Linked DNA regions of Homo sapiens: region 2 is linked to region 1. A link means that fine-mapping ties the variant in region 1 to the expression of a gene that starts in the linked region. Tissue or cell type: whole blood. Region 1 holds a variant in brackets; the other region holds the start of a gene. All regions are shown on one strand. Distances are between the middles of the regions.

What was found. PIP is the estimated chance that this variant, and not a neighbour inherited with it, causes the effect.
Region 2: it holds the start of CRTAP, and the variant in region 1 is fine-mapped to the expression of CRTAP in whole blood (TOPMed, PIP 0.92).

What each region holds. Positions count from the first base shown.
Region 1 is chr3:33,146,330-33,149,085 of GRCh38, reverse strand. CRTAP (cartilage associated protein) reads right to left here. Exons shown (of 7, transcript NM_006371.5): 7 at 1,313-2,756. Among named protein-coding and RNA genes, the nearest start is that of CRTAP, 34 kb to the right of the region's middle. The variant A/C (reference allele first, on the strand shown) is at 1,173.
Region 2 is chr3:33,112,712-33,115,467 of GRCh38, reverse strand. CRTAP (cartilage associated protein) reads right to left here and starts at 1,454. Exons shown (of 7, transcript NM_006371.5): 1 at 920-1,454. The coding sequence starts at 1,390. RefSeq lists an enhancer at 1-743 and silencers at 695-884, 1,325-1,624.

The sequences.
Region 1 (2,756 bases):
AATGCAGCCAGTGTCCAACTGTGGCCTGGAGGAAGCAAAGATTTTAAGGAACCAGACCTTGTCTCACCCTGCCATCTCTTGTTGGCATGTCCCAGTGGCAACTGGAAATCAGAGGGTGAAGAAGCCCAGGCAATGGAACCATAGAGGTCAGGCTTCTGGGACACCGGGCATGTTGGAGGGGCATGTTGGAAGAGATACGGAAGGGCAGCTAGCAAATCCAGCTCAGACGCCATCAGCACCAATCCCATCTGCCTTATGTCCATTTTTACATCCATGACCACCACAGATCCATGCCTCCCAAGCCTTCCAATGTTGTGGACATTGTTGATGCCCCTCCCAGGTCCCCTTTGCTAGGTAGGTGAACCTGTCTTCCAGCTGCCCTGAGTGTTGGCTGTTAAAATGCTCATAAGCACGTAAGTGTACCCTTCCAACGCAGAGAATTGCCCTTGGCCTATTGAGAGTTCCCTCACCCAGGAAGTTAGACCACGGTATACTCTGCTAGGGCAGCCTATAACCAATGACCAGCTGTCATGGGAATGCAAAAGGCTGGCCTCCTTTCCTCAAGGTGGGACCAACTCCGATATGATTCATGCTCCAGAGCTCCCATGAGATCAAGCTGAAGTCAGTCTCCAACTGAAGACACATCCTTACTGGCTCCTTCCTGCTTCTCTCACACCCCTTCTCTTGAGAGCACCCCATCACTTCCCTTGCTTCAAAGGATCCTGACCTAAGACATCCATCAACACTCAACTCTTACTCCCTACACCTCCTCTCCTCAGTCCAGATTTTTTCACCATAACCTCTGGAATTCTTGGGCTGACCTCCATGTCCTCCACCTCTTCTTCAGACAGCTGTTTCAACTCTCCATAACGTGGACTTCTTTTTGTGCTGGCTGGTTCCTCACTCTTTCCACCTGCTTCCTTCTACTCTTCTTTCTCCTGCCTGCCCTTTAGTGGCATGCATGGAGCATAGTTGCTGTTGACAGTCATGCCTGAAGATGCTTTGTGTCCCTGTTTGAAACAGATTCCAAATGTTTTTCCTAGTGGGATTCCAGATCTCCTCTGAAAGACAATCTTCCGGGGGAGAGGCATGAGCCTCTACTGCCTGACAGGACCTCAGCCAGCTCTTGGCTCATGGAGAGCAAGGACCACTCCTCTTGCATGAGATCCAGG[A/C]GTCCCTGGCTTGAAGTTTCTACTTTGTTAGATGAATGTCAGAAATTTCACAGACCTGAGAAAACAGAGCTCATTACAACATAGCTTCTAGAATGTGGTGAAGACATCCCTGTCCAGTGGATAGAATAGAAAATAGAGAATAAGCAATGTAAAACATTTAATGTGATTTAAAAAGAAAAACAAAAACCTTTTGTTTTCAACTATTTTCTAATTTTCAACAAGAGTGAGCTTGTACATACCACACTAACCCAAAGAGGGGAGGCAGAAAAAGACATCAGCAACGGTCTTTGGAGTTTGGCCTACTGGCTGCCACCCTAAAGTGGGAGATAAAACTCTGGAATCTATCTTGTATCTGTTGGCCAAATTGCTTAATTCCTTCCTATTCTCTTCTTGTAAAATGAGGCACTAATATCTTACCGGCCAGCTCCAAGGGGATATAGAGCCAACTCACTCATTCATTCAACAAGCAACGAAAGCCAGCTATTTGTGTGGGGACAGTGTCAGGTGCAAGGATATGTGGCTGTTCACGAGCCGGCCCTAGACGGAAAACACTCTAAGGATAACAATAGCTGCTCTTGATTCTTATTTCTGGGGTAGCAGTGGGTCAGTCAAGGCAAAGCCGGGCTGTCATGGTGTCCTCTTTCAGGGAGATGTCATGGGCACAGGCATGGGGATCAGTCTTGCCCCTGGGGGCAGGCACAGGAAGTCCAATGCATAAAACCTTTGGCTGAGGCTTACTTAAGGTTCCTTTCCTTTTTTTCTTTCCTCCCTTGTACATAGTTTAAACTCTCCACACTAGGTCATTCAGGCCTGGAGTCACCAGAAAAAAAGAAGTCACTGTTTGGGGGATGGCAGATGATCAAGAGTTCAGACAGCTGCGATGAAGGATTAGTTGTGGGTTTTTCTCAGTGCCTTGCTACAAACTGTGTTGCAGTTCCATGTTCTGACACTATTAAATAATGTTTTCTCTGGCACCAATCCACCTTTTCCCTACAGTTTAAGTATTGATTTTTTTTTTTTTAACTGAAGTAGCTTCAGTTTACGGCTCACATTTAAAACCTAGAAACGTTATTTCCATAAATGTTGGCAGAAACTGGTCACTGTTTATTTCACCAGCAGTCATAATAAACCCCTTCCAACTGACAATCTAACAAATCATTTTCTGTTTGTCACTAAGGTGGGTTCAATAAAATTTTTGTGCTCTTAAAATTCCCCTAATAAGAACTCCTGAAAGCACACATTTCCTTCCTAAGGCAGCCCTTGTGGTCAGTGCTCGCAGTGGCTCTCTTTCTGAATTCCAGAGGTGAGCACAACAGGTTAGTTGTAGTAATTAGAAAGTCTCGAAAATCAGGAAGGTATTAGTATGTTGCATATGTCGGTATGTGCTCATTTCAGTCAGTCAGTCACTTTTAAATACATGGGTGTACACAAACCTCCCCTCAGCCCTTCGCTTCTCCACAAGTCAAGTGTGAACAGTAGCAGTGGCCACAAGGAGTATCTTTAGACCCTTCCCAGCGGGTGCCTCCTGTTTGGATGCCCTGAGTGGCAATGGGGCTGGACAGATGCCCCACCACGATGGGCGGC
Region 2 (2,756 bases), 34 kb after region 1:
AATTTGTGGCTATTTTTAGCCAGCAATCACAGAGAGAACTTAAGCAGCCATTAAAAGGAGGCAGTGAACTGTGTTAAATTCTAGATGAAAGAGAGAAACAGCGGAGAGGGCCAATCCTGATGACTCACGGTGCACGAGTTCCCCTTTAAGCAGGGATGTGTCCTTGCAAGGAGTCCCTGCCCTTCCCTGGCCTCAATTTCATCCTCTTTAAAAGGAACTAGTCAGCTGGGTGCAATGGCTCACGACTGTAATCCCAGAACTCTGGGAGGCGAGGTGGGAGGATCACTTGAGTCCGGGAGTTCGAGATCAGCCTGGGCAACGTGGCGAAACTCTGTCTCTACAGAAAATACCAAAAAATTAGCTAGGTGTGGTGGCGCGCGCCTATAATCCCAGCTACTCAGGAGGCTGAGGTGGAGGATCACCTGAGCCTGAGGAGGTCAAGGCTGCAGTGAGCCATGATAGCGCCTCTGCACTCCAGCCTGGGCGACTGTGAGACCCTGTCTCAACAAAAAATAAAAATAAAAGGTACTTGTCGGCTCCTCAGGTCTTCTGCTTTATTATCGCAAGTCACCGCTCACTTGAGAAAAAAGGCGACTTTAATGGTATATACAGAAAAGAGGCGTCTGCCCTCAAATAACAGAGAACATTTATCAGGCACTTTGTTGGGTGCCTGGCGCTGTACTGCGTTCTGTGTACGTATTCTCTACCTTAGAGTTACCCTTCAAGAAAGGCATTTTCATCTCTAGTTGAGATGAAGAAGGAGACAGGACTTGGAGGAGACCTTTGGCAGGGCTGGATGGGAGGGAGCCAGGTCTAGAACTGGAGGGGCAACGCGGCCCCGGGCGCAGGGGCGGGGCTAGGGCCTGGAGGCTGGGTCAGGGGCGGGGCCGGGGCCTGGGACGGGGCGAGGCGGACTTGCCTTGAAGTAAGCGAACTGCAGGAACTTGTAGGGCTCGCGGCGCTGGAAGTCCGCCAGCACCTCGCGGCTGGGCTGGGACTGGCGGAAGGCTGGCAGGCCCTGCTTGCAGCGCTTGAGGCAGTGCGCGCGGCGCAGCAGGCCCCCGAAGAGGCGCAGCTCGGGATAGCTGGCGAGGCCGGCGGCGGGCTCGGGCTGCGGCGCGGCGCTGCAGTTGCGGTGGCAGAAGGCCTCGCTGTCGCGCAGCAAGCGGTGCAGCCGCAGGCTGATCTCCAGGTAGCCCACGCTCTCGGCCCAGTGCTCGCCGCTGTACTTGTCCAGCGCGTGCCGGTAGGCCGACTCGAGCGGCATCAGCTCGTCCCGTGGGAAGCTGCGGAAGCTGTAGCGTTCGTATTGGGCGCGCCCGGCGCGCAGCGCGCAGGCCACGCACAGCAGCGCTAGCAGCGCCGCGGCCCCCCGGCGCCCCGGCTCCATCGCGCCCGGCGAAAGGAAGGAAGGAAGGGACGAAGGAAGGGAAAAGGGGAGGGAGAAGGAAAGGAAAGAGGACGGTGCGACGCGGCGGGCCCAGTGCTTTCGGGGCGGGGACGCCAGCCTCCGGCCCGCCCCGTCCGGCCGCCCCTCCCCACCCAGCCGGGGGATCTGGGCGCCAGCTGCCAGCACCTAGAGGGTGCCCGGGAAAGGCGCGCTGCGCACTGGTTCACGCAGGCTGATGCGCATGATGGGACTCTGCCGCTCATTCACTTGGAGACCCGCCTGCAAGGCCGACGCGGCCCTAATAGATTATATACATCGGCCCTACGGTCTATATAATCTACGATCTTTATATTCGTTTGGAGGTTTGTGAAAACGAAGATTCCTGGGCTGTGCCCCCAGAGTTTCTGATTCAGAAAGTCTGGGGTGGAGGTCTGACGATTTGTGTGTTTAACCAGCACCCTGATGAGGCTAATGCTGCGGGCCCAAGGGCCGCACTTTTAATAGCACTGCCCAACCTTAAATTTTAGTGAGAGAAAAAGACAGTGCAAAAATAAAATTAATAAGGATGTCAGCACTTTGTAAACTGTATAGCTAGTCAGGTTGAAGATGTGCACACCTTATGAATCTGCAACACCATTCGGTGGAATATGCTGGAGAAGCTTGCGCGTGTGCATCAAAAAATATGGATGGAATGTTAATGGCAGCACTTTTAAAAAATCTTTAAACTTTTAAATCTTGAAATAATTTACAAGAAAGCTGCAAAAACAGTACAAAAAGTTCCTATATACCCTTCATCAAGATTCACAAGTTGCTAACGTTATACCACATTTCTATCTTTACATTTTTTTCTGACTCATTTGAGATAGGTTGCATGTATCAGGCCCACTGTCCGTTAGTCTTTTTTTTTTCTTTTTTTTTTTCCTTTTTTTTTTTTTGAGACGGAGTCTCGCCCTGTCACCCAGGCTGGAGTGCAGTGGCGCGATCTCGGCTCACTGCAACCTCCGCCTCCCGGGTTCAAGCAATTCTCCCTGCCTTAGCCTCCCGAGTAGCTGGGATCATAGGCACACACCACCATACCTGGCTAATTTTTCTATTTTTTACTAGAGATGAGGTTTTGCCATGTTGGCCAGGCTGTTCTTGAACTCCTGACCTTAGGTGATCTACCTGCCTCTGCCTCCCAAAGTGCTGGGATTACAGGCGTGAGCCACCGTGCCCAACCCCTTAGTCTTTCAGTATGTATGTCCTAAGAATGAAACTACCAGACAATCAAATTTAGGAAATTTAATACTGATAGAAGACTTTAATCATGTTCCATTTCCGGTTATGTCAGCTGTTCCAATTATGTCTTTCATGGCACTTTTTTCTC